Homo sapiens: one gene and its partners. The protein of the gene in region 1 interacts with the protein of each later gene in a pairwise test. Each region holds a gene or a part of one and is shown on either strand. Other genes may lie near its edges.

Region 1 (5,594 bases):
CAGCCCCGAGGCAGCCCCCGCTGCCCCCACTGCCCTGCCCAGCTTCAGCACCTTCATGGACGGCTACACAGGAGAGTTTGACACCTTCCTCTACCAGCTGCCAGGAACAGTCCAGCCATGCTCCTCAGCCTCCTCCTCGGCCTCCTCCACATCCTCGTCCTCAGCCACCTCCCCTGCCTCTGCCTCCTTCAAGTTCGAGGACTTCCAGGTGTACGGCTGCTACCCCGGCCCCCTGAGCGGCCCAGTGGATGAGGCCCTGTCCTCCAGTGGCTCTGACTACTATGGCAGCCCCTGCTCGGCCCCGTCGCCCTCCACGCCCAGCTTCCAGCCGCCCCAGCTCTCTCCCTGGGATGGCTCCTTCGGCCACTTCTCGCCCAGCCAGACTTACGAAGGCCTGCGGGCATGGACAGAGCAGCTGCCCAAAGCCTCTGGGCCCCCACAGCCTCCAGCCTTCTTTTCCTTCAGTCCTCCCACCGGCCCCAGCCCCAGCCTGGCCCAGAGCCCCCTGAAGTTGTTCCCCTCACAGGCCACCCACCAGCTGGGGGAGGGAGAGAGCTATTCCATGCCTACGGCCTTCCCAGGTTTGGCACCCACTTCTCCACACCTTGAGGGCTCGGGGATACTGGATACACCCGTGACCTCAACCAAGGCCCGGAGCGGGGCCCCAGGTGGAAGTGAAGGCCGCTGTGCTGTGTGTGGGGACAACGCTTCATGCCAGCATTATGGTGTCCGCACATGTGAGGGCTGCAAGGGCTTCTTCAAGGTACCGCGCAGCCCCAGGTGGGGCCTTTTGTTGGAAATGGAGAGAGGCTGGCCTCATCCCATTGGGACCTGTGGTCTCCCCCTGGGTTCTCCTCCTAGCTAAGTCCTGTCCTGCAGGGTGGGATCAGCCCTGCCAGGTGGGCCGCCTTCCTGGAGACCCGTAGATGCCAGGGCTGGAAGCTTTCATTTGCCGGGACACTCGGGCCCATGGGATTGCACAGAGCTGGAGGGAGGGGTGAGATAGGGGCAGATAGGAGCTGCAGGGGTGCCTGGCGAGCCTCTGGTTTTCCTCTGCTCCTCTGCCTGTCCTCTCCCAACTCAAGGTTCTAGTGGGAAGGGGTGCCCCCAGGCTCTCATGTTCCTGGCGTGAGATGAAAGGATCCCTGCGGAGGGTTTGGTTCTTGAGGGCTGGGGGTGGACTTGGGAACAGGCTGTGTGTTTGTCCCAGCGATGGTGCCTGCTTAGCTTCCCGTCCCCACCCCCCAGCCCCTTGGCCCTCTCCTGTCTGCCCTAGGGAGAAGGCAGGTGGACAAGGGCCCATGAAAAAATACAGGTGTCTAGACTGCCAGGGAGACCCTGGCCCCCAGTAGTGTGTCCTGGGGACTTCCTCAGAGCGAGAAACCTCCCCCAATGTCTTCAAGACTTTTCTCTCCCCCCGCCCAACCCCGTCTCTCCCTCCCTTGCCACCCAAATGTTAGAAAAATAGCTGTGAACAGAGAGCGCTTTTGTCTGCAATGGCAGCAGGATCTGGACGGTCCCCTCCCCTAAGTTCCCCCCTCCCCACCCCACACTCTGACAGCTTGTTCCGTGTTGCCCCCCCACCCAGCGCACAGTGCAGAAAAACGCCAAGTACATCTGCCTGGCTAACAAGGACTGCCCTGTGGACAAGAGGCGGCGAAACCGCTGCCAGTTCTGCCGCTTCCAGAAGTGCCTGGCGGTGGGCATGGTGAAGGAAGGTGTGTGGCTGGGGTGCGGCCCAGCGGGGCAAGGGTAGGCTTGAGTGGAGTGGGACCAGCAGGGCCCCCAGGCTTCTGCCCTGGAGGACCCAGAGGAGGGCACGTCTTATTTCCACCCCACCTCTGAACCCCAGGCCTTGGAGGGAGGCAGCCTACACCTGCCTGGATTGTGAGGGTGGTGGCAGGGGGAGGTTCCTATAGGGTACCTTGGATCTCAGGGACTCTGGGTCCTAGGGACTCGGTGGGGCGCGTCTCAGCAGTGGTGTGCACGGCTTGGGCTGAGAGGCCCTTCCTCAGATCCCTTCCTTCCTCACCCCTACCCATTCCTTTGCAGTTGTCCGAACAGACAGCCTGAAGGGGCGGCGGGGCCGGCTACCTTCAAAACCCAAGCAGCCCCCAGATGCCTCCCCTGCCAATCTCCTCACTTCCCTGGTCCGTGCACACCTGGACTCAGGGCCCAGCACTGCCAAACTGGACTACTCCAAGGTGAGGTCCCACCCCGTGTCTGCCTTGGGGAGGTCTATGAGCACATGCAGTGCCTTTGTGCGTGTTAGGAGAGCTACCCCCTCTGGAAGGACTGAATGAGAAAGGAGGTTTAAAAAAGAAAGAAAGAAAAGCGACTCCCTCCAGTTCGACAGATCAAAGAGAGGATCCCCCTCTCGGCTGACCAGATGGGAAAATGCACCCCCTCAGGCAGGTGGCCAATTAGAAAAATATGTCCTTTTGGCAGCTGCAGCCCTGGGTTAATATGTGAGACTTGGCAAGTGAGAGCCTGGGCAGGATCTCAGATCCACTCCCACTCCCGGGATCTGGCATCCAAGTGTCTGACACAGCCATACGTGGCAGTGGGTGTAGGAGCCTGCCTGGGGTGCTGACCCCACTGGACCGTCTTCCTAGTTCCAGGAGCTGGTGCTGCCCCACTTTGGGAAGGAAGATGCTGGGGATGTACAGCAGTTCTACGACCTGCTCTCCGGTTCTCTGGAGGTCATCCGCAAGTGGGCGGAGAAGATCCCTGGCTTTGCTGAGCTGTCACCGGCTGACCAGGACCTGTTGCTGGAGTCGGCCTTCCTGGAGCTCTTCATCCTCCGCCTGGCGTACAGGTGAGAGCCACTGACTGTCTGCCCAGCCCCTTTCCCTGATACACCTGCCTGTGAACCACCCTGATCGCTCTTCGTGCCCATCTGCCTGCCAGGTCTAAGCCAGGCGAGGGCAAGCTCATCTTCTGCTCAGGCCTGGTGCTACACCGGCTGCAGTGTGCCCGTGGCTTCGGGGACTGGATTGACAGTATCCTGGCCTTCTCAAGGTCCCTGCACAGCTTGCTTGTCGATGTCCCTGCCTTCGCCTGCCTCTCTGCCCTTGTCCTCATCACCGGTGAGTGACCAGCACCACACCAGGTCCAAGGGAATGGGCGTCAGGGGGTTGACTGGTTCTCAGGAGGGCACTGTCCCAGGGAGTTTGGTGGGCCGGGATCTAGCACTTTCTGGGCCCCTGCACTGCCCCGGGCTCATGCCAGCAGTAAAGTAGGGACCATAGGAATTGCAGATGGGCTCAGCTGCATCCAGCTCTAAAGCGCAAGACAGCCTTTGGTCCCAGACTGTCAGGATCCAGACTGCAGGTGTCATGTATGTGGCCTAGGGTATTGGCTTGTTTTTAAAACCTTCCTGTCAATTATGCTGCATATAGAAAAGTACACAAATGGTAAATTTTCATAAACCGCACTTACCCAACCAGCGCCTTGGTCAAGAAAGAGCACATAACTGCCCCCCAGAACCCATTATTGTGCCCCCTTCCAGTCATTTGCCCTCCCCAAGGGTAACCACTACTTTTTATTTAAATATTTTAAAAATAAGATGGGAATCTCACTATGTTGCCCGAGCTGGTCTCGAACTCCTGGGCTCAAATGATCCTCCTGTCTCAGCCTCCTAAAGTGCTGGGATTACAGGTGTGAGCCACCACGCCTAGCCCTTCACTGTGACTTCTGACAGTGCAGATCAGATTGGTTGTGCCTGTTTTGGACTTTATGTAAATGTAGTTCTGCAGGATGGAATCTGGTGTTGAATGCAGAGGTTTTCAGATTTCTCTGTTTTTTAAAGGAAAGAATCCACCCTCGTTCATTTTTTCACTTAAATTGCACAGGGGACCCAACGATATAGAACACAATCAGAGGTACTCTGGGCTGAGGGAGTGCTGAGTTCTGAGGCTGGGTTTCTCAGAACAGTCTAGATTTTAAAAACCCAATGATCTAGCCAGAAAACGTAGGTTAGGATTTTATTTCCCGTTTGTGACCCTGGGCAAGTCATTAGCCTCCTGGGCCTCGGGTTCTCACTTGGAGTATGAGGATAATGAGGGTTACTGCTTCTCAGACTTGTGACGATGCTTACTAATGGCCAACATGTGAATGCGCTTTTGTGAAGTGCCAGCAGAGCATGAGGGGTGGTCAGGGGCAGCAGTTTTAGGGGCCTGGGGGAGGCTGGGGCTTTGGGGGCCTGGTTCTCAGATGTACAGCTAATCCTGTACCCTTCCCGCAGACCGGCATGGGCTGCAGGAGCCGCGGCGGGTGGAGGAGCTGCAGAACCGCATCGCCAGCTGCCTGAAGGAGCACGTGGCAGCTGTGGCGGGCGAGCCCCAGCCAGCCAGCTGCCTGTCACGTCTGTTGGGCAAACTGCCCGAGCTGCGGACCCTGTGCACCCAGGGCCTGCAGCGCATCTTCTACCTCAAGCTGGAGGACTTGGTGCCCCCTCCACCCATCATTGACAAGATCTTCATGGACACGCTGCCCTTCTGACCCCTGCCTGGGAACACGTGTGCACATGCGCACTCTCATATGCCACCCCATGTGCCTTTAGTCCACGGACCCCCAGAGCACCCCCAAGCCTGGGCTTGAGCTGCAGAATGACTCCACCTTCTCACCTGCTCCAGGAGGTTTGCAGGGAGCTCAAGCCCTTGGGGAGGGGGATGCCTTCATGGGGGTGACCCCACGATTTGTCTTATCCCCCCCAGCCTGGCCCCGGCCTTTATGTTTTTTGTAAGATAAACCGTTTTTAACACATAGCGCCGTGCTGTAAATAAGCCCAGTGCTGCTGTAAATACAGGAAGAAAGAGCTTGAGGTGGGAGCGGGGCTGGGAGGAAGGGATGGGCCCCGCCTTCCTGGGCAGCCTTTCCAGCCTCCTGCTGGCTCTCTCTTCCTACCCTCCTTCCACATGTACATAAACTGTCACTCTAGGAAGAAGACAAATGACAGATTCTGACATTTATATTTGTGTATTTTCCTGGATTTATAGTATGTGACTTTTCTGATTAATATATTTAATATATTGAATAAAAAATAGACATGTAGTTGGAACTGAGATTCAGTCTGTCTCTGATGCCCCCTCCCCACTCCCCCACCAGACACACCCCATCATTACATAAGAGATGGGCTGCTCAAGATGAAACTTGGATGTTACCAGCCTGAGCTGTCAGGCCTCAGTGTACTCATTTGTAAAAGGCGGATAATAATGACACCTGCTTCACGAGGTTGTTATGCAAAGCACTTAGACTAATTTCTAACACGTGGGAAGCCTGCATTAGCTGTGCCTGGCTAGCTGTGCCTGGCTCATTGCTGGGGTCTGCAGTGGCTGACTAGCCCAGGGGTCACTGCAGGGCCCTAGCAATAGACTTAGCCGCAGATCTCAGGGTTGTCATGTTTCCTAAACTGGACATATATTCTCTGATTCTTGATTTCCACATCCATAAAACAAGAATAGACCCAGCCTCACAGAGCTTTTACGGTCAGAGGAGTGTGTGTGTAATGCTTAGCATGGGCTGGGTTTAAGTAAGCCCAAATTGGTAGTAGCTGTTACATTCAGGGTTTTAACATCCCCATTCTCAACATT
Region 2 (6,839 bases), on another chromosome or scaffold:
TGCCAAGCACCCCCATGACCGAAACACCCCCGACTAGGCCTCATCTCCAACATTGGAGGTTACATTTTAGCACGAGATTTGGAGGGGGCAAATATTTAAACTATAGCATATATCATCTTTGGTGAAATGTCCATTTAAGTCTTTTGCCCATTTTATTTATATATATCATTTATTATTATTATTATTATTTCAGATGGTGTTTCACTCTTCTTGCCCAGGCTGGAGTGCAATGGCACAATCTCGGTTCACTTCAACCTCTGCCTCCCGGGTTCAAGCAATTCTCCTGCTTCAGCCTCCCAAGTAGCTGGGATTACAGGCACACACCACCACGCCTTGCTAATCTTTTGTAGTTTTAATAGAGACAGGGTTTCACCATGTCGGTCAGGCTGGTCTTGAACTCCTGACCTCAGGTGATCTGCCTGCCTCGGCTTCCCAAAGTAGTGGGATTACAGGCGTGAGCCACCACTCCCACTTTTGCTCATTTTAAAATTGGGTTATTCGATTTTTTGTTGTTGAGTTGTAGCATTTTTTGGTATACTCTGAATGTTTACTCTTCATTGCCAAGTTTGATGTCATGAATAATTTCCCCTATGTTTTCTTCTAGGAGTTTCATAGTTTTGTGGCTCGCATTTGGGCAATTAGTTCTCCATGCCCTTTTAAAGTTATTTCTGTGGATAGATGATAGAAGAGATATATAGGTATCTCCATAGAAAATATTTGTATATAGTTCTGTTATATGCATTTTTATTGCTATGGTTTTGTTTAACCTAATACATACTATTCTGATGCTGGCTTTTTTTTACATTTTATAAGTCTTTTTCATTATTTTTAATTGCTGCTTAGTATTCTACGGTAATGATCCACCACATTTTATTTTGTCTTTTCCCTTTTAAAGGTACTTGTGTCGCTGGTTGTTAAAGGAACATTTCCTACTTTGGAGGAATTTCTTTTTTTTAATTATACTTTTAAGTTCTAGGGTACATGTGCACAACGTGCAGGTTTGTTACATAGGTATACATGTGCTACGTTGGTTTGCTGCACCCATCAACTCGTCATTTACATTAGGTATTTCTCCTAATGCTCTCCCTCACCCAGCCCCCTTCCCCCAACAGGCCAAGTGTGTGATGTTCCCCTCCCTGTGTCCATGTGTTCTCATTGTTCAACTCCCACTTATGAGTAAGAACATGTGGTGTTTGATTTTCTGTACTTGTGATATTTTGCTGAGAATGATGGTTTCCAGCTTCATTCATGTCCCTCCAAAGGACATGAACTCATCTTTTTTTATGGCTGCATAGTATTCCATGGTATATATGTGCCACATTTTCTTTATCCAGTCTATTATTGATGGACATTTGGGTTGGTTCCAAGTCTTTGCTATTGTGAATAGTGCCGCAATAAACATACGTGTGCACGTGTCTTTATAGTAGCCATTCTAACAGGCGTGAGATGGTATCTCATTGTGGTCTTGATTTGCATTACTATTTACTATTGAAATTGTGTAGAACTGCTGGACAAAAACTGTGTCCATATGCTGGCCGTGTATTGTTCCATCCAGAAGTGATTTGAGCCTCAGCATTAGGGTGACCCCAACCCAGCCTTTGGTTAGGACATGGAGCCTGATGATGTCACATACATACATTCATACATTCATTGTGCTAATTTGCAAAGTCTCTGGTACTGATGTAGTAGCTGCACAGGGGCGTGTGGATTTCTGAATATACTGCCTCCCCGGGGGCCCTTCCCAGAGAGAAAGCCAGAGTGGACACCTGCTGGACCCCTGAATAGGAGTATAGATCGCCATCAGTGTGGCTTAAACTAGTTGAACCAACATATTGATGTCACACTTGTGTCAACATAAAAAAAAAAAAAGAGAGAGAGGGAGACAAATCTTTAAGTAAAATCGTTTTACTTGGGAATAATACAAAAGAAGTAGGATTGCAATCCCACAACATAAATATGGACCAGGGTGGCCTTTTTGTTTTGGAGAACAAAGGAAAAAGCTGGGGATTTTTAGAGAAAGAGGCTGTTATGCAAGTTGTTCTGAAGGAAAGTTCAATGCAATTTGTTTTATGAAAGTTATGCAAGTTGTTTTGAAAGAAAGTTTAATGGCTGTGATCCCACAGCCGAAAGCTCACACCTGTAATCCCAGCAATTTGGGAGGCTGAGGCAGGAGGATCACCTGACATCAGGAGTTTGAGACCAGCCGGGCCAACATGGTGAAACCCCATCTCTACTAAAAATACAAAAAATTAGCCGGGCATGGTGGCAGTTGCCTTTAATCCCAGCTACTTGGGAGGCTGAGGCAGGAGAATCACTTGAATCACTCCACCGGGAGGTGGAGGTTGCAGTGAGCCGAGATTGCGCCATTGCCCTCCAGCCTGGGCAACAAGAGCAAAACTCCATAAAAAAAAAAAAGAAAGGAAAGGGAGGGGAGGGGAGGGGAGGGCAGGGAAGGGCAGGGAAGGGCAGAGAAGGGCAGGGAAGGGCAAGGGCAAGGGCAAGGGCAAGGGAAAGGAAAGGAAAGGAAAGGAAAGGAAGAAAAAAAGTTTATTGGTGGTGGCAGCATCTTACAAGACCTGGCGAGTTCTGACCGCCAAGTGTCAGTAGTTGCTAGGTAGGACTGGGAATCTTGGAGTTATGGTCAGGTTCCTGCAGTTTTGGATTGGGTTTGTGAGACACTGTGCCAGGCAAGTGTTTTTGCATAACTGGCTCGCTCTCCCTGTGCTTCTAGCTGTCCTTGTGTGGCCCATGTGATAAGCTGCAGTTTGGAAACATTTCTTGTGATAGTTCCTGTTAGCAGGCAAACGGGAGAGCCTCATCTTGCGTGAGAGCCCTCCCATTAAAGCCTTGCTGGCTCTGTCTGCTGAGGTTTTACCCAAGTGACTCCATTTTGAATCTTACAACTCGCACACTACTCATGTGGAAGATTTAAATGTACATTCCAGGACCTGGTGCTTTCTCTTCCGCCTGTTCTCAAAGCAGCTGCAGGGTGAGCCTGACTGTGTCATTTCTCAGCTTCATCTCCCTTTCCCCAAAAAGGTATAGATGATAATCCCCTGCAATGGCTTCAGGACACAAGATCAAGTCCTTGCAGTGCTTTTGTGGCCTCACAGGGCCTGGATCCCTGTTAAACTCTGAGTTCACCTCCTGCCTCTCTCCCCTGCCCACCTGCTGAGGCCACACTGGCCCCCTTGCTGCTCCTGCCACACGGGCTCTGCCACTGCTGTGGCCTCCACCTGGAATGACTGCCCCCCCATAATTCTGCCTAGGTCACTGCTTCACCTCCTTTTGCTTTAGCGCTTCATCAAATAACATTCTATACATTTAGTTATTTATTATGTTTAGTTTGCCCCCATTGCTGGTAAACTCTGTGAGGATGGATATTTTGGTCTGTTTTGTTTACAGTCCTGTCCCAGTGCCTAGTCAGTATCTAGCACAGTGGGCCTTCAGTTGAGACTTTTTTTGAAAAACGGAACATCTGCCTATCGCAAGGACTACTATTATTCTGAAAATCACCTTCTTCATTAGAAAGTAATATTTATCATTTTATTATAGAACTTTGATCTTACTTCTTGTGACTTCATTCTGCGTAGAGCACACTCCCATCCTTGAATTAAATGACAAAGCATTTTATATTAACTGACAATGACTGATGCCATGGGCAAATCCTATTTCTGTAAATAACTGAATTTTCTTCTGGACTGCGCATGAGGGGAGAAAGATGTCTGCAGTTTCGGTTTCCTGGAAAATGAAACCTATCTCATTTGTTGCCTGTGTCAAGGGGCAGTGCTTCAGTCGGGGTGGAGCTGCTTAAAAGGCCTGGGATCACACCCTTTGGGAACACATCCAAGCTTAAGACGGTGAGGTCAGCTTCACATTCTCAGGAACTCTCCTTCTTTGGGTAAGACTGGGAGGGTGGGCAGGAGCTACCCTTCCCGTGGCCCCGGACCTTGGGTGGGCTGTGGGCTCAGGGAGCGGAGGGGAGGCCTTAAGCATCCACTCTCTGCCCGGTGTTTTTGTTCTCATCAGGGAGCCTCAGATGGGAAGGGACTCGAGCCCCACCTGTCCCTGGACTCTGGAATGTAAGGACAATTAGCTTTGTCCTTGCCCAGGTTTTCCTCAGGCCTTGAGGGCGGCTTGGGGTAAAGTGGGCAAGGGGAAGAGATAAGTGTTAGGAGGAACCAAGTCGAAGCCATTGCAAGTCCATGCCTGGGCGGGGTGTTGCTTCCCTATGGAAAGCTTCTGACCTGGAGCAAATCACTGAGCCAGATCGCGCTCCCTCATCTGTAACATGCGGAGGAGGAGGGTCCCATCTTTTTCACGTTAGTGAGGAGATTACATAAGAGCAGGCACCTCGCCTGCTGTATATGCCTTAAAAATGCGATTGGTTCTGATTTCTTAGTTTTGGTGCTTTTTCAATTGCTCCGTGGAGAGATAAGGGAGTCCCGGAAGTGTCTAAGACATTGGCGCTGGGACTTTCAGGAGAAAGAAAGCAGCCCCCCTGGGGAAATAAAGTCCCTCAGGGCCCTGACCTAACACAGGTCCTTTGGTAGCCCCAACTCCCCAACATCCCTCCCTCCCTCACCCCAGGATCCTTTCAAGGCCTGCTGCTCCACAAGCTCAGAGCAGCCTCCCTAGCCCCCTGGAGCCCGTCACATTTTTCAGGACAGTGGGAAGCAAGTCAGGTTGTGTGCCCATCCCGTCCTCAGAGCTCCATCCCTTCGGCAGGTCTGGCTGAAGTTGAGGATCTCTTACTCTCTAGGCCACGGAATTAACCCGAGCAGGCATGGAGGCCTCTGCTCTCACCTCATCAGCAGTGACCAGTGTGGCCAAAGTGGTCAGGGTGGCCTCTGGCTCTGCCGTAGTTTTGCCCCTGGGTGAGTGTTCCTGGGAGGGGCTGGTGCTGGGGGCGAGGAGGCGGCTGGGAAGGGCGGGGGTCCTGTCCCGGGACCCGTGGGAGAGAAAATGGGGGACACCCGCAGCCTTGCTGCCCTGTCCTGTCTTCTCACAGCAGGCGTCCACCCTAACTTTCCATCTGGGAGGGGGCCCGGGGCAGGCAGACTCTGGCCAGATGCCCAGCCCTGGGTGTTCCACAGGTCCTCTCCCCTCTGGGCCCGGGCCTCCTCCTGCCTAGCCGGAAAGGGTCTATCTACCACTGAGTCCCACTCTCTTCAGCTCTCCCTTCCCCCAGATTCACCATCAGAATTCATCTCCTTTAGGAGTTTACCTTGTCAATAGGGCCCCGTGTCCTATGGGATCTCACATCCAGAGTATCGATTTTAACAAAATTCTTCAGCTCACTTTTTTCATTAGTTTCTGGGAGATCTCTTTCTGGTTTTATTTATTCTCATTTTCTTCCTTTTCACCCTCGATTCCCCTCCCTCAAAGTCAACCTTTCTAATATATTTAATGTGTGTCTGTTTTTCATATGTATTTTTGCAGAATGGGTATTGTGTTTTGTTTGCGGGCATTTTAACTGACATGCAGGATGGTGTGCTGTAGATCCCATTCTATTGCTTTTTTCCACACTGAGAACCATATTCTTGAGATCCATCAGTGTCATTCGATGAGCATCTAATCCTGGCTTCTACCTGCTGACAAGTGCTCCTCTGTGTGTATCCCCTGCCCTTTACCTTTCTGTCTCCGTGGGTGGACATCCAGGGGTTCCCCCAACTCCGCCAGCACAAATGGCACAGGCTTGAATGGGGGCACAGGGCCCCTGACTCCGACCCTGACTTCTGACCCCTGCCCCAACCTCTAACCTCTGTTTGAGCCTGCACTCACCCTTTGCTGACCCTGTCATCCTCAGCTGCCCTGAGCCCCAACATCTCTCTCCTCAGACCCTTGCTGGGGGCACTGGAGGCTAGCTCCTTCATGCTGGGGTCCCTCACTGGCACCCTGTTTTGCAACTTGGAGGTAACTGGCCCTCGGCAACACACACCACTCTGGGCTCCCAACTCAGTACAGAGAAGTGTGATGAGCAAGCAAGGGCCTGGGCCACGCCCAGCAGTCCTTTCTGTTTGTCAGAAATGCAGATGACTTCTCAGTTTAAGATCAAGCAATTCATAAAATTAAAATAATAACAGCTCAACTTAAGCAAGCGCTTTTATGTTCTAGTCACTTACCCTAGCACTTGAGGTTTGTCAATTTAATTCTCATAACAACCCCAGAGGAAGATAAGAAGATAATATCGTCCCTTATTTACCAACTGGGACAATTTACTGTTGTCCAAGTGCTCTGGGCAGGACAGAAGGGTGTGGGTGTGCTGCTTCCAGGCTTGGAACAGGAGGTAGAACAATGAACAATGACAGAAAGTATTAATAGGCCAGGCACGGTGGCTCACACCTGCAATCCCGGCACTTTGGGAGGCCAAGAAGGGCGGATCACTCGAGGTCAGGAGTTTGAGACCAGCCTGGCCACCACGGTAAAACCCTGTCTCTACCAAAAATACAAATATTAGCTAGGCATGGTGGTGCATGCCTGTAATCCCAGCTACTTGGGAAGCTGAGTCAGAAGAATCACTTGAATCCAGGAGGCAGAGGTTGCAGTGAGCCGAGATTGTGCCACTGCACTCCAGGCTGGGTGACAGAGCTAAGATTCTGTCTCAAAAAAAAAGAAAGAAATATTAATAGAAGTAGGAAAAGGTTGGAGGGAGGTCTCAGGGTAGGGCAGGTTCTGAATGGCACGAAATAATGGCCAGGCTACTCCGCCGTATGAATGCCCATCAGCTGAGCCTAACAGGCAGGCCTCCAGACACACCGCAGCCAGTTCCTGAGGGCTTTTGTGTGTCAGGGTGCAGGTCTGCTGGGCTGCCAGCCAACTTGACATCACCTCTCTTG
Region 3 (7,580 bases), on another chromosome or scaffold:
AAAAATGAGGAAAAAATAAGCTAATGCAGTGAAAGTCAGAAGACTTGGGTTCTATTCCTGCAAAAGTAGAATGAAGTTGCTAAGTGGGCAAAATCCTCATGTGCAATCTATGCAACTTGAAAAAAAGAGAGATTACATCTTTCAGAGCCTTTTCCTGTTAAACATAATATCCTCGATCCAAGAACCAGAATCTCTGTTAACTAAAATATTATTGGTCACAGAATGTTAAGCTAGACCTCAATTATCAAAAGTGCTCACTGTTCTTCCATGGACCAGGACCTGGATTCTTGTGAAACCCCTAATTCAAGGTCAGATCACTAAATCAGCAGTACTGTCCATAAGGTTCAGCCTCAGTGACCAAAAAAACTTCCTTGGATATGTATACTAAACATGTGCTATAAGGCAGGATGAACCCTAGACCAACGTTTAGGAGAAGCGGAAGATACAGCACTGCCTCTCTACCAGTTAACAGTGTGACGGTGTGCAAGTCTTCACTGCCTGGCATCTGCTTCCTCGCTTTAAAAATCACACCATGGTCAGTTACTAGGTGGTCTGTACAACTGAGTCCAGTTTCTCTTCTCTTTATTCACCCAGAGAAGCAGAGTCATGTGTATCAGAATTCTGTATTCCAAATACTTTTTTTTTGTTCTGAGCCTACCTTTCTATTTTATACCTGCCTACTCCTCACGAAGGCACTGAAAGAATACAAAAATCTCCGGGGTTTGTGCTTCGAACTCTAAAGATACTAAACAACACAAGATCTTGACATTAGTTCAATATGACTAAGCACTTGGGACAAAAGATGACCCGAAAGATGATCCTTTCAGTTACACAGTCTATAAATTTACCTGTAATACCTAAAGTCAGTTGCTATTCTAGATGTCTGTTTTCTTGGGGATTATTCCCCTATCATTTCATGCCAATGGATAGACACTAAGATCTTGAAATACGCGTAACACAAGGTTTATCAACAGTGGCACTTGGGGCCTGATAATTCTTTGTTGTGGGAATCCTGCTGTGCCTAGTAGGATGTCTGAGCAGCACCCCAGCCTCTCCCACTAGATGTCGGTACCAGCACCACCCCCACAAGAGGTGGCAACCAAAAATCTCTCCAGATATTGTTCTAAATAATGCCCCCTGAGAGAGGGGAGATAAAATCCCCCTGGTAGAGAACTACTGATTTATATAGAACAACTCTTCCTTTTACGTAAGAGAAGCTTGAAACTGCCCCCTTTCAGCGCCTAAAACCACCTTAAGAAGAAAGTGCTAACCTAGGTTAGGAGGCCGAGGCTGCTTCTTGGAGACTAAGAAATGCACTCAAGACCTATAAGGCCTTTCCCCACAGCCTGATCCTAAGTGGAAAGGCCAGGAGAAGCGTGGCAGAGAACTATGGATCAGGCAGCCCCTCTCATCTTTACCATAAGCTAGGTGCACTGCAAAGTACATAGGAAATAAGCAGGATCTGAAACAGGCCAGCTGAAACTTTCAAGAGGAACCAGTTCAGGCATTTCCAGGTAGCAAGGGACCACCCTGGGCAGCTCCGCCCCAAGCCCCAAGCCCGGCGGCCTGCAGGGCCTCCCGGGGCCGGGCGCCCGCGCGGAGCTCCCGCCACGCCCACCGGACGTCACCCGTTACACAACGCCCCCCGCCCCCAGCTTATGCAATTCTGCCCTCCCGCGGTTCCCAATTGTCCCGGTGACTTTTGTGGGTGAGGAAGGGAGACGCCGCCTGCCCGGCCTAGTTGCCCTCGCGGGGGATTCTCTCCCCGCCCCGGCAGTCGTTTCCCCGCGGCGGGCCCGGCCCGAGAGCCAATTCCCGGAAAGCGCGCGGCAGGAAGCGAGCGGCCGCTCGGGATAGCCCAGCTACCACCCATCCCGCGCCGGGGCGGCCTCGGTCCAGGTCACCCACTCCGCGCCGGGAGCGCGCGCCCGACAGCCAGGCCGCGGCCGAGGGAACCCCGCGCCGAGCGCCCCTCCCCGCGCCGCGTCACAGTCGGCTCCCAGGGCGATCCCCATTATGACCGAAGCACCCCGGGGCGCCGCCCCCTCCCACACCCCCCAGCACCCCGAGACCCGACACGCCAGCGGCCCAGCGGCCCCGGGGAAGCAGAGGAGACTCTCGGGGCGCAGACAAGCTCCGGGTCCCCGGCCCTCGGGGCCAGGAGGGTGCGGTCGGCCCGGCCCCGCCGCATCCCCGCGCGGTCACCTGCTCGCAGCGCCTCGCAGGCGGCGGCCAGGGCCTCCCGGTAGCGCCCCTGGTGCAGTAGCTCCCCGAGCCTGCCGGCCGCCCGGGCCCGCTCGCGCTGGCCCGGAAACCACTTCTCGGCCAGGTGGTTGAGGACGACGCTGGTTCTGAAGTCTGAAGCGGCGATGGCGGCGGCCAGAGGCGGCGGCCGCGGGGCGGTCCCTTCAGCATCAGTGGCACTGGCGGTGGCGGGCGGCAGCCGGTCCCGGCAGAGGCGGCAGCGGGCGCGGAGTTCCCTCCGCAGGCAGCGGCGGCAGTAGCTGTGGCCACAGGGCACGGTCACCGGCTCGCTCAGGAAGCCCCGGCAGCCCAGGCATCTGAGGAGCCCGCCGGCGCCGCCGTCAGCGCCTGCAACCGGGGCCGCGCTCCAGCCCAGCCCGTGGCGGAGCCGGTAGTTGAACACCAGGCAGTCCACCAGGGCGCCCAGGCACTCGGGCCTGGCCGGGGCCCCGCGGCGCAGCGCCGCCGCGAACGCCTCCAGCGCGCCCTTCAGGTGGCCGCCCAGCGCCAGCAGCTCCCCGCGGCGGAGCAGCAGCTCCCAGCGCTCCGACTCCGCGGCCGCGCGCTCCAGCCGATGGCCGCTGCCGCCGCCCACTTCCCAGAACCGGCCTCGGCCCTGCGGCGCTGGGGCCATCTCCCGACTCCCTCCTGGGGAGGTCCTCGCCACCGCCGGAGAGGACATGGCCCGCGGAGGGCTGCGCCGCCGCCGCCCGCCGCCACGGTCCCGGAGCCTCCCGGGCGCGCGGCTCCGCACGCGGCCCGCGAGCAGGGGGGCGTGGCGCGCGGACACGGCGGGGCTGCGCGCGCCCGGGAAGCCCCGAGGGCGGGGCCTGGCGAGGGCGGGGCCGGGCTCGGCGACGGCGCCCGGGACTCCCCCACGCCGCCCGCGGCCGCGCTCCCGAGGAGCCAAGCGCTGGGCCCCGCCCCTTCCGAGCCCCCTCCGGGTGGGGGACGCAGGTCGGATGATTCCTCCGTCGGAGATCTAATTGGCTTCTCCGGAAAGGAGGGCTCGGCTCGTGACGGAACAAAGCCGGAAGGACCCCGGAGCTTCAGTCCCCGCTTGCCTGTCTGCCAACGCCGCCACCTGCGGTGGCCCTCGCCCCTGCCGGGGGTTGGGGGACGCTCCCCTGCCGCGCGGGACTCCGGGTCACCACCCCTCCCCCGACGCCCCCGCCCAGGCCGGACCTGCCCCAACTCCTGGCGGGCGGGGGTCTCCCCGCGTGGCCTCGCGCTTGTGCGGGTCTGCATTTTCATAGCTCTACGCCCATGTTCCAGGTGGGCGCGCCCAAGCAGGGGGCCTGGGAGCGCACCTTCGGCAGATGACTGGGACTCTTCGGTTCTAGAGGACTCAACTTTAAATATGAACAAAAAACCCACGTTCCTGGGGCGACTCCCTCCAGAGGGCAAGGAGTTTTTCCTGGTGCCAGGTGACTGCTTGCCCGTCTTGCTTAAAACTCATCGTGGGCCCACCTCGAGGGAGAAAGCCCACAGCTTCCTCAGGTGTCTCCACACCTCAAGCACTGCCTTACAGCTGGTTAAGGTCTATATTTGGCAGTTTTAAAAGAAAACACCAAGAAACATGTTTCACATGGCGGTCACCGTATTACTACAACCCAAGCTGGCTCTGCAGTTTTGCTGACAGAAGAAAATGATCGGGTTGATATATAATGGGTGCTATTTCCCTTAAACTTCACAGCAGCAAGTTTAAAGCTCTCAGCTGAAAATACAGATTTGATGATAGGGTATTAGATCGCTAATGTTGGAAGTCACTTAGGACTTTTAGTCCTTTTTCAAATGATTGGAAACACAGGGAAAGTTATTTGTCAAAAATCACACAGCTAATACAGATTTTAAGATCACGTCTATTCCACTACTACTACGTTAGACTAATATGTAATATTTAATAAAATATGTAATATTTCATAGAAATATATGAGATTTTCAAAGTAAAAGAAGTTGCTAATTGGAAAGTTCACCTGAGCATGCTATGTATGAAATTGGTAAACGTTTAATATTTCTCTTTATAAGGAACAGGCAATTAAGGCTAAAAAATGTTTTGAGTTCATGTGTTTTCACTACACAATCAACAAGTCGTGTAACGTCAGAAAAGACAGAGTTATATTACCCTAAAGGGAATGAATAAAAAAGAGGTGCCTGAGAAAAAGCCAAGCCTCCTGTTCCAACAGGATGCAGACAGAAACAAGTTCATTTATCACTCACATTGCACCTGAAGCAAATTGCAGCTAGATCCAAGGAGCACCTCCTAAGCATTTGGCATGGGAAGCATTGGGATTAAGTCATGAGCATAACCTTAAATCCAATCCTAACCCCTAAATTACTACCTTAACAAGCAGAACAGTGACTTTCAGCTGATGTCCACATACTCCCTTGAGACTTGAAATCACAAACAAATATCCATGTGTACACGCACATTCATTTTTGTAACGCATCCTTGTTCTTAATGGCATGTTGCAAAATTTACAACAGTAAATATGTAATCAATGTGTTCATGTTTATTACAAGGAGCATAGTAAATTAATAAACACTCATAAACTTCTTTTCAAATATAAAGTCAGGTTCTATTATGGGATTTCTGCCAAAAGTACAATATGTGGTTCAGAAAATAATGTGAAGTATTATTTGTCCTTTGGAGTTCCTTTTCCTAATAAATATGACAACCACATCTGATTCTGATGTGAAATAAAATGGCACAATTATGATAATGTGCGGGAGAAAAAAATGGGACCGTAGGAGGAATCTTACCGTGTTCTCCTTGGCATTTGTGAATGGTTATAATTCATGTTTGCTGGTTTATGCATTTACATAACTTGTTCTCATTTATGTAACTTATTTATGTAAGAGGCTGTACTGCCGCTGTGGCCTTTGTGTGCTGCATAACTTCCCTTTGAATCAGGAAGTCTAGGCAAAGCAGTCACTGGCACTGTCACAGGTCACCCTTCCATCATTCTCTGCCATCCAAAAGTTGCACAATAATGTGACTGCTTGTTTAAATTCAAAGGCGAGAAAAATTAGTGTCCTTCTTCGTTCATTTCCTAAAATTTAGACAGGTCTCTGAGTCACCCAGCAGGCTGTGATGGAGAAGAGGGAATCCTGCTAAGCTGCCCCTGGCTAGGAGAAGTATAATGGAGTGAAGAGCTCTCCTTTTCCTTCCGCATTACTTGCTCGTGTCATTCTTTGCTAACAAAGTAGTAAAATCATGAGATTTGTATTCTGTTTCGGTTTTTGAGTGTTGTCTTCTAAAATAGATCAGTTATGTAAGAGAGTCAGAAGAAAAGCGTATCTGTTTCCTAATTTGGAAAATGCTTATCACCATCATTGCCTGCTTATCCCTGCCTCCCACTGCCACACCATAAGACTTTTCCTGATATAGTTTGGTAAACTCCTATTTAAGAGTAACATAACACAGTGCTTTTCTTATATACAACTCAGCTGAAGATGTGTATTTGAACCTCTTTTTTTTTTTTTTTTTTTTTTTTTTTTGCTGTGGGTGAATTTACCATTTGTTTCTTTACATTCTTATTAAAAAAGAAACTGAATTTGTCAGTCCAAGCAAAATATGTCCCATTCCTGATTCATTTCAGTTGATAATGTTCTATTCAAAGAGAGTAAACTATAACGTTTTATATAAACAGTACCTAGCCAATAGATTTTTTTTTTTTGACACAATCTAACTTTGTCACCCAGGCTGCAGTGCATAGTGAGTATATAGCTCACTGCAGCCTTGACCTCCTGGGCTCAAGCAATCTCCCACCTCAGCCTCTCCGAGTAGCTGGGACTACAGACGCATGCCTCTCTGCTCAGCAATTTTTTTTTTTTTTAACTTGTTGTAGAGGCGGGCCCCATTATGTTGCCCAGGCTGGTCTCAAACTCCGGGCCTCAAGCAATTCCCCTGCCTCAACCTCCTAATGGGCTGGGATTAGAGGCATAAACCACCACGCCTGGTCCCCAATAGCATTTTTGTACAGAATACACAGATGGAGGGGTCTCTAGAGACCACCTTTTCATACCCCTCTCTCTCTCTCTCTCTCTCTCTCTCTCTCTCTCTCTATATATATATATATATATATATATATATATATATATAAGAAAATTGGGATCTGAGAAGCTGCTAGTTTCATAGAAGTCATACCAGCGAGGGAATCCAGACACCTGGTGCTGACTCTATTTATGCCTCTATGCCAGGGAAGAAGTCACCTGGGTTCCCTAGGCCTCATTTGCTATCTGTAGAAAGAGGGAACTGCAACTACCTCTAAGGTGCCTTCTGCCTCTGGAGCCAAGCCCCAGGGCTTGGTTTGAACACAGTAAGAGGAGGCAGAGCATCTCCCAGACTGAGGAACACAGCAATGTGATACCTGCTGAAAATGTAACAGCAGATGAGGGCTGAGAATAGAAGAGAAGGGTATCAAGAACACATTTTGTTGGTACATACTCATCCCTGTTTAGAGAGGGGGAACCAGTTTCTGAGACCTGAACACCTGCAGTCACTGTACAGGGATCCCCTATTGCACTCACACCTCCTTGCCCCTACTGTAAAACTGTGGGAAGCTGAAAGAAAGCCGGGGGTGGGGGGGCCGAGGGAGAGCTGATTATATAACTTGGGCATTTGTGCGAAAGTTTATATAAGATGCTAAAAATACCATATATGATTGCTATAATAGCGTTCCAAATGAAAAGCCCTAATGAGGACAACCTGAGTAGGTTAAATAGAGCTGATACGAAGTGTAAGTCTAAAGCCAATTGCCTGCAAGGACTACCATCTAACCAAGTACCATTTACTGCTCATTCTTTGTTATCCCTACAGGGTGCACAAAGTGCGCAAGGGCCACTACCCTTACAAAGGGTGCTATGCTTCATTCTTCATTTCTAATACTCTGAAGAATCTAGAAATACTAAGTGTGTGACCCATGGCCTATTTTGCTGGTAGTCAAATTGATTAAATGAATACATTTTCCTGTATCAAGCTGTTTAAAAAGTAGACATAGGAATAAACCCCATATATTATTTAACAAATTCTAAGAATTTAATACATATGAATCCCCCTGGTACTTTCCATCCTCCTTCCTTGCTGCCCCCCCACCGCACACCCCCCCACCTTTAGTACTTATCATCTGACGTATTACATACATATTACTTGTCTCCACCCTCCAGAATGTAAGCTCCTTGAGATTTGGGATTTCTGTACATCTTGTTCACTGTCATGTCTCTAGCACCTAGGCACCAAGAAGACACTAGAAAATCATTCTTAAATGAGTCCACCCACAAAGATATCATGTACTATTTTTCATTCTTGTTAGTGATAAAAATCTGGTGGGGCA
Region 4 (7,851 bases), on another chromosome or scaffold:
GGGGAGCACCCCGATACCTCAGCCACGCCTACCATCTCTCCAGTCTCTCTGACCCCGTCTCTAGCTCAGCCCACAGCTGGGGAGGGGAGGGGAAGGAAAATGGGGGCAGACACAGGGAAGGGCAAAGGGGGGTTGGAGGTGGAGTTAAGGAAGTAGCGGCGATACTGGGGGAGGCCAGCGGGGGCTGTGAACCTGGAGGGGTTGCTACTAAGTGTCTGGGGGCCTGGGGTAAACTGGTTTGAAGCAAGAGGGGTATGGTTAGACCTCAAGAAAGGGCCAGATGTGTGGCAAGATATATTGATGTGGAGGTCAGGGTGGGGAGGGGTCTCACAAAAGGATATTTACTTCTTCAAGAGGCGGCTGGAGGCTCATCCCATTAGCCAAGGTGGCTACAAAATTCTAGGAGAGAGTAACAGGGAAAAAGGATTAGCTACTGGGAGTGGCTGTGGGAGGGCTGGGTGGCGGAACCTGGGCTCTGGCCGGGGGGTGGGTTTCCAGCAATTCTCCTTCTTGGTGGGGAGTGGTGGCGAAGGGGGCAAGTAATGAGGTGGGGTGTTTAAGAAAGGGTGGGAAAAGTGAGGGGAGAAGAAAGGGGGGTCTCCTATCCCAGCTGTGGCTGGAGAGATGGTGGCCCACCCCCACGCTGCCCCTCTCTGGCCAGGCAGCTGACCACACACCTCCCCCATCCAGGCCAGGGGAATTGGCACCCACCACCGCCAGCTGTCGCTCCCTCTCATCACCTAATCTCCTCCAGATTAGGTGACACTTCCTGACACACACACCCCTATCCTAGGGTGCCATGAATAGCAGAAGGGAGCGGGGCTGGCAGGATATGCCCACAGGGCATCTGCCACCTCTGCAAACCAGTCTCATGTCTGAGAGGATTCCAGAATAGAGGTGTGGCACACGGGTACTTCCCCAGAGCTAGTACCCCAGACCCCAGCTCCTGCCTTGGACTCAGGAGCCCCAAACAAAACCAGCTGGAACCAACCCCCTCCCTTATGACCCTCTGCCCACGAAGGTAGGGTCCCAGGGAAGATGGGCAGCTCCTGGACCCTCTAAGAATGAGAGGACTCCAGAAAGTGGCTTGGGGGCACGGTGGCTCACACCTGCAATCCCGGCACTTTGGGAGGCCGAGGCAGGTGGGTCACCTGAGGTCAGGAGTTTGAGACCAGCCTGACCAACATGGTGAAACCCTATCTCTACTAAAAATACAAAAATTAGCTGGGCCTGGTGGCGGGTGCCTGTAATCCCAGCTACTCAGGAGGCTGAAGCAGGAGAATCGCTTGAACCCGGGAGGCGGAGGTTGCAATGAGCCGAGATCAAGCCATTGCACTCCAGCCTGGGTGACAGAGTAAGACTCCGTCTCAAAAAAAAAAAAAAAAAAAGTGGCTTGGGGAGTCAGGCCATCGCCCCCATTCAGACACCCATCCCAGGCCCTGAAGACTTCCAGGTGCGGCCAAGCCTGAGGCCACCTCTGGGAAAGTTATTTCCTCCATCCATAGAGCCCCAGGTGCAGGAGACAGCCAAGAGGGTGGGAAGTCATTACAGTGACCCCTGGGAGCTGCATCCTGACAGCTGAGAGCTGACCTGCCCCTCCAGCCAATGCCATAGGTAAGGGGTGGAAGGACAGAGGCCCCATCAGATTACATCTCTTCCAGATGTGACCACTATCCAAGTCTCCAAGAAGGGCCACGTCACAGGCCATGACCTACTAGGCTCCAAGCACCCTCCCTCCAGCTCTCCCAAGCTAGCGGGGATGCCTATAAGAAGAAAGGTGCTGAGGGGGTTTCCCACTCGGGCCTATTTCTCAATACCACTGAAAACTACCGCCAGACAACCCCAGCCCCAGAGGGCTTGAAACGCAAGACTGAAACCTCCCCCACATGGCTGCACGAGAACCAAACCTCACTCGAAACCATTTCAGGCACCCACTCTCAGGACCCCAGGGCTCAGGACCCTGCACAGGGCTTCAGGAAGAAGGAGGTCATCTCGCACCCTCACAAAGACCCGGGGGAGATAAACGGCTCCAGTAGGGTAAAGCTCTCAGCCTACATATTTCCCACAACTCCTTCCCAGCGGACATACCCTCCTCCCTCCGCCCGCCAGGAAGAAATCCGAGGGGAGGTGGGCTTCAGGACACGCCCCATGAAAAAGATGTCCCTCCCACACACCCAGAAATGGCCACAAGGGGGTGCACGGCGCCTATTAATGGGAAAATCTCTATCTAGATGCCCCACCACCACCCAGAGGGAGGTCACAGGGGCATGCCCCATCCCCCAACTCCTAAAGCCCTGGGCGAGGGGGAGAATTCTGGGAGGGGAAACGGGGTCGGCGGGGGACCCCATTCTTGGTTTTCCTCCAGTCCCTAACCCAGAACGCACAAAACCGGGTCCGATATCCCAACAGATGCCCCCGGAGCTCGGAAGGAGGTTGGTAAAGGGCTGAGAAGCACTGCTCCTCCCAAGAGACTCCCCACATCGTGGAGGGCCCCAGGTCGATCACACCCCACGGCGTGTGCCCAGGTCCCCGGGGAGGAGGGCTGGGGGCGTCAGGAGGGTCGGACCCCCTCCCCGCCCCCCTGGGCGCCCCTCCCCGGCCGGGGGCGGGGCCTTTGTCCCGCACGTGGAGCCCGCCGGGCCACTGGACTCGGCACACCCCCTCCCCACCCACCGCGCAGCGGCCACGTGGGGGCCTGGCCGGAAGCGCCCCCAGCCCTCCTCCACGTGGGAGGGGGGATAAGACCCTCCGCTAGGCCGGATGCCGAAGGCCCTTGGAAGCTAGGGAGCCGTCACCTCAAACGATATCCCCGGATGTGGAACGTGCGGCGCCCCCGTGTGCGGCGGGGGACCTCCAACCCCATATCGCCAACTTAGAGCCCTTTCCCCACCACAGAGGCGTGAAACACCGACCCAAAGCCGCCTCCCGCCCACGGCGGCGCTCCAAGCGCTCACCTCCATGATGCAGTTCGCGGCCTCGGCTGCCGCCATCTTCACCCGCACCTACTCCTCCTCCGGCCGCCAAGACCCCCCCTTTCTCCTCACTCCCCCGGGACCGCCTTATACCAGAGGGTCCACGGCCCGCCTACCGCGACCCCGCTGGAAGATTTCATTGGCAATGGAGGCGGCCCGTCTGAGAATACCGTCTAGTAATTGGCTAGAGAATACGTCCATCATAGGTCAGGGGTTTGCCAACTCTGGCGTCCAGAATCCCGCCCCCTCAAGTCGACCCGGGATGGGGAAAACTGCCCGTCTATTGCAAGAAGCGCGACTGGTGATTGGGCAAAATCCACCAGGAATGCCCTCCCCTTTACACCCAGCACCGCCTCAAAGCTTCCCGGGGAGCCCCGCGCTAAAGGGGCGTCTTGAAACACCTGTCCATCACCAAAACGACCCGCCTCCTAATCGCTGCCATTGGTTTATCCGGAAGCGACGTCACGCAGCCTTTGGCCCACCCTCGCCAAGCGGCCGGCCTCAAGGAGAACACGGCAATTGGCCCACGGGTAGGGAAGAAGGCGGGGCTTCAGGCACCAACGATTGGCTCAAAGGAATTATCACTCCTCGTCCACTCGGTGGATCCTCCCAACCCGGGGGGAGTCTGGAGGAAAAAGGGAGCTTGTGCTCATTACCTGGGGGAAAAACGGAATCGGTGAGAGGCCCAGAGAGAGGAAGGGCATAGCTGGGGTCCCGAAGCAAGTGAGGAATAGGAGTCCGTCGTCAACACATTAAATCCCTAGCCCTTGACATAATCATTCCAAGTTTTTTAAAACCATCAACCCCTCTCAAGCCACTTGGTTTTTGCCAAGTCCCTCCCCCTGCCAGGAACGCCCACCTCTCTTTGTCTGGTCAGCTTCTAAACGTGAATCAGAGCACAGCTTAGGCACCACTTCCTCCGGGAAGCTTTCCTTGATTTGCAGAAAAAGTTCCTAGTTGAATGAAGCTGAATGCAAAGGGCCGAATGCGTGGGTCCTGCCCCTCCTCTCCCCGATCCCTCTACTTCCCTCTGCTCACACTTCTCTCCAATCCCGGAATGAGCTCGCTCTTTGGTTTCTGGGCCTCCGCGCAGGCTATACTCTCTGGCGTGCCGCTGGCAAACGCCTGAGACTTAAAATTTACAATAGGGTTCGGGCGCGATGGCTCACGGGTGTAATTCCAGCACTTTAGGAGGCGGAGGCAGGCGGATCACTTGACATCAGGAGTTCGAGACCAGTCTGGGCAACATGGTGAAACCCCCATTTCTATTAAAAATACAAAAATTACGCCAGGCGGCCGGGCGCGGTGGCTCACGCCTGTAATCCCAGCATTTTGGGAGACCGAGGCGGGCGGATCACAAGGTCAGGAGGTCGAGACCATCCTGGCTAACATGGTGAAACCCCCGTCTCTACTAAAAATACAAAAAATTAGCCGGGCGTGGAGGCTTAGGCAGGAGGATGGCGTGAACCCGGGAGGCGGAGCTTGCAGTGAGCTGAGATCGCGCCACTGCACTCCAGCCTGGGTGACAGAGCGAGACTCTTGTCTCAAAAAAAAAAAAAAAAAAAATTTGGCCGGGCGCGGTGACTCACGCCTGTAATCCCAGCATTTTGGAAGGCTGAGGTGGGCGGATCACAAGCTCAGGAGTTCGAGACCAGCCTAGCCAATATGGTGAAACCCCCGTCTCTACTAAAAAAACAAAAATTAGCCGGGTGTGGTGGTGGGCGCCTGTAGTCCCAGCTGCTCCAGAGGCTGAGGCAGGAGAATCACGTGAACCCGGGAGGCAGAGGTTGCAGTGAGCTGAGATGGTGCCACTGCACTCCAGCCTAGGCGACACAGCGAGACTCCATCTCAAAAAATAATAAAATAAATAAAAATAAAAATAAAAAAATTAGCCAGGACTGGTGGCACACGCCTGTAATCCCAGCTACTTGGGAGGCTGAGGCAGGAGAATCGCTTGAGCTCAGGAGGTGGAGGTTGCAGTGAGCCAGGATGAAGCCATTGCACTCCAGCTCGAGCGACAGACCGAGACTCTAACTTTAAAAAAAAAAAAAAAAATTGAAAAGCATGGCACTAAACAAACCAAGAAAAGGACATTTGTTTCCAGTGTTTGAGCTGAAGCAAGAGGAGCCCAGCTGCAAATATGCACATCAGGTCTTTAGCTTGTTGCAGCTCTGTGCATAAGCATTGCCCTCCAAAACACCACAAAAGCACTGCCTTAATTTTTGGGGTATGAATACATTGTAGCAAGGATGCAAATTTGCAAATAATCTACAAATACTGAGGATCAACTGTAATTGGTTCGGTTTGTAATCCTGTACATTTCACTTATTAATTTACAAACATTACTCTGTGAAGGGGGATATGGCCCTATAAAGGAGACAAACCGCCCAGGCACAGTGACTCATGCCTGTGATCCCAGGACTTTGGGATGCCAAGGTAGGAGGATCACTTGAGCCCAGGAGGTGGAGACCAGCCTGGGCAACATAAGGGAGACCCCATTTCTACAATTTTTTTTTTTTTGAGACGGAGTCTCGCTCTGTTGCCCAGGCTGGAGTGCAGTGGCGTGATCTCAACTCACTGCAACCTCTTGCCTCCCGGGTTCAAGCGAGTCTCGTGCCTCAGCCACCCAAGTAGCTGGGATTACAGGCACCCACCACCATGCCCGGCTAATTTTTGTATTTTTAGTAGAGATGGGGTTTCACCATGTTGGCCTGGCTGGTCTTGAACTCCTGACCTCAAGTGATCCACCTGCCTTGGCCTCCCATAAAAATTCTTTTTTAAAAATTAGCTAGGCGTCGTGTCGCATGCCTTTAGTTCCAGCTACTAGAGAGGCTGAAGTGGGAGGATCACTTGAGCCCAGGAGGTTGAGGCTGCAGTGAGCCATGATAGTGCCACTGTATCTATATAACAGTGCAAGTATAGGCAACAGAGCAAGACCCTATCTCCAAAAAAAAAGGGAGAGTGGGGGGTGTGTGTGAGACAAACCACTGGTCTGTAGGTAGATGAGAAACCAGCAAGAGAGACTTGAAAGGAGCAATGGGAGGAGAAAAACAAGAAGAGGGTGGTGTCCTAGACACAGGTGAAGTTAGACTGTACCTTTCTGTGGAATTCACTGGAAAGACTCCATGACCATCATACAGCATTAGCTAGAATAACCAGATCGTGCAATAGGAAAAAAAAATGCAAGTTGCTGGAATATTTACAGGTATTCTCTCAAATATGTTACATGTCCAGGAGACAGGCTCTTGTAGGTGCTGCAAATAAATATTTCTAGAATGAATGAACTGGTTCTTTCCTCAATTTGCGTAAGCCACAGAAATCTCTGAACCAAATCTCCTCTCCTTAAAACTTTAGTTCCCAAGTGTAAGAACAGACAATTGAATACTTTGTAACGTTTTTAATAAGAAAAGTTTTAAACAATTTATTTTTGGCAAAAACAGGTAGGGCAACCACCACCCCACAGCCCTGAGTGGAATAGGAAGACTTGGAAAAGCACACGAAGAGGGCAGGGACATGAGGTGTCATCTTGTAGCAGCTTCTGAGAAAGAGCTCAGTCCAATGGCAAGTTCAAGTCCACGGGTGAAACAGCCAGGATGCCCTCCTGGAAGGGAAAAGTGGCAGAGCCCTGTGAGCAGGGCAGGTGTTCCCCCCATACAGCAGCGTCCACATCAGCCCTGTGAGATTAGAGACGGGAAGGCGAGGAACCAGAGAGCGGAGGGTGACAGACACCCAGACAAGGGGACAGAGACCCAGACAGAAGGGCACAGGGATGAGGGGGCAGGGTCCTAGCAGGAGGAGGAAAGGTTGAGCTCGAGGAGGGTCAGGACACTGGAGTGGGATTAGACAGAGATCCAGAGAGAGTGAAGAGTTGGGGGACAGAGTCAGAGATGGGGAAGAGAGTCTTGGGATTTGAACAATTCAGAGTCGTGGCTTTGTGTACAAATCCAGATTCCAACACTCTGCATGCTGGGGACTTTTCCTCTCTGCCCCCACAAGACGAGGACAATAAGAGCCCCATGAGGTTGTAGTGGGTTTAAATGGGATCATTCCATTGAAATCCCTAGCAGAGGACCTGGCCCACCGAGAAAACTCATCTGCTATCAATCCTACTTTAAAAAAATTTTTTAAGAAATTGTCCAGGCGTGGTAGCTCAGCCTGTAATTCCAGCACTTTGGGAGGCCGAGGTGGGTGGATCACTTGAGGCCAAGAGTTCGAGACCAGCCTGGCCAACAGGGCAAAACCCCGTCTCTGCTAAAACTACAAAATTAGCCGGACATGGTGGTGTGCGCCTGTAACCCCAGCTACTCAGGAGGCTGAGGCAGGGAATCGCTTGAACCCAGGAGGTGGAGGTTGCAGTGAGCCAAGGTCGTGCCACTGCACTCCAGTCTGGGCAATAGAGTGAGACTCCATCTGAAAAATTAAAATAAAATAAAATAAACGAGCTTCTTTGCTGAGCCCAACACTTATATCCATTCCCCTCAACATGTGCTATGAGTTCTGATCTTACTGTAGACCGGACCACCTCCAGTCCTGCTCCCCACCCCCATCGCCCCCATCCCCACACCTTCCCCATCTCGGGGAACTTAAGATGTCGCCCTGCAGCTGCTCGGGCCAGCATCCTTTAGTCTGTCCCCACATCTGGCCCATTAGCCAAATCTGTCAGCTTCACCGCTAAGTTAAATCCAGCATTCTCCACCGCCCCCGACTTGGGTGAGATCCACTCACCTCCTCCCTGTGCCCCTACTTCTGCCCTCGCCCCCAGCAGTCTGTCCCCAGGCAGCCGCCAGAGGGCGCCCATTAGCGCCTAAATCAGCGCCTGTCCCTCCGCTGCTCAGAGACCTTGGCTTACCCAGAGTCAAAGTCCGAGTTGTCACTCACC

The links.
Region 2: the proteins of NR4A1 (region 1) and IFI27 interact in binary tests that used the Homo sapiens proteins (3 or more experiments, as listed by UniProt).
Region 3: the proteins of NR4A1 (region 1) and LONRF1 interact in binary tests that used the Homo sapiens proteins (3 or more experiments, as listed by UniProt).
Region 4: the proteins of NR4A1 (region 1) and PRMT1 interact in binary tests that used the Homo sapiens proteins (3 or more experiments, as listed by UniProt).

What each region holds. Positions count from the first base shown.
Region 1 is NC_000012.12:52,054,442-52,060,035, forward strand, and holds the end of NR4A1 (nuclear receptor subfamily 4immunitygroup A member 1), read left to right. Parts: coding exon 1-763; intron 764-1,588; coding exon 1,589-1,718; intron 1,719-2,052; coding exon 2,053-2,204; intron 2,205-2,615; coding exon 2,616-2,818; intron 2,819-2,910; coding exon 2,911-3,089; intron 3,090-4,246; coding exon 4,247-4,503; 3' UTR 4,504-5,062; downstream 5,063-5,594. UniProt on the Homo sapiens protein: Orphan nuclear receptor. Binds the NGFI-B response element (NBRE) 5'-AAAGGTCA-3'. Binds 9-cis-retinoic acid outside of its ligand-binding (NR LBD) domain.
Region 2 is NC_000014.9:94,106,897-94,113,735, forward strand, and holds the start of IFI27 (interferon alpha-inducible protein 27, mitochondrial), read left to right. Parts: upstream 1-3,901; intron 3,902-3,918; exon of another isoform or gene 3,919-4,082; intron 4,083-4,728; 5' UTR 4,729-4,786; coding exon 4,787-4,877; intron 4,878-6,839. UniProt on the Homo sapiens protein: Probable adapter protein involved in different biological processes. Part of the signaling pathways that lead to apoptosis.
Region 3 is NC_000008.11:12,752,495-12,760,074, forward strand, and holds the start of LONRF1 (LON peptidase N-terminal domain and RING finger protein 1), read right to left. Parts: upstream 3,033-7,580; 5' UTR 2,927-3,032; coding exon 2,206-2,926; intron 1,955-2,205; exon of another isoform or gene 1,447-1,954; coding exon of another isoform or gene 1,419-1,446; intron 1-1,418.
Region 4 is NC_000019.10:49,672,420-49,680,270, reverse strand, and holds the start of PRMT1 (protein arginine N-methyltransferase 1), read right to left. Parts: upstream 3,001-7,851; 5' UTR 2,991-3,000; coding exon 2,955-2,990; intron 402-2,954; exon of another isoform or gene 400-401; coding exon 346-399; exon of another isoform or gene 342-345; intron 132-341; exon of another isoform or gene 36-131; coding exon of another isoform or gene 18-35; intron 1-17. Other genes in the region: BCL2L12 (bcl-2-like protein 12), read right to left, coding at 6,523-6,573. UniProt on the Homo sapiens protein: Arginine methyltransferase that methylates (mono and asymmetric dimethylation) the guanidino nitrogens of arginyl residues present in proteins such as ESR1, histone H2, H3 and H4, FMR1, ILF3, HNRNPA1, HNRNPD, NFATC2IP, SUPT5H, TAF15, EWS, HABP4, SERBP1, RBM15, FOXO1, CHTOP, MAP3K5/ASK1, MICU1 and NPRL2.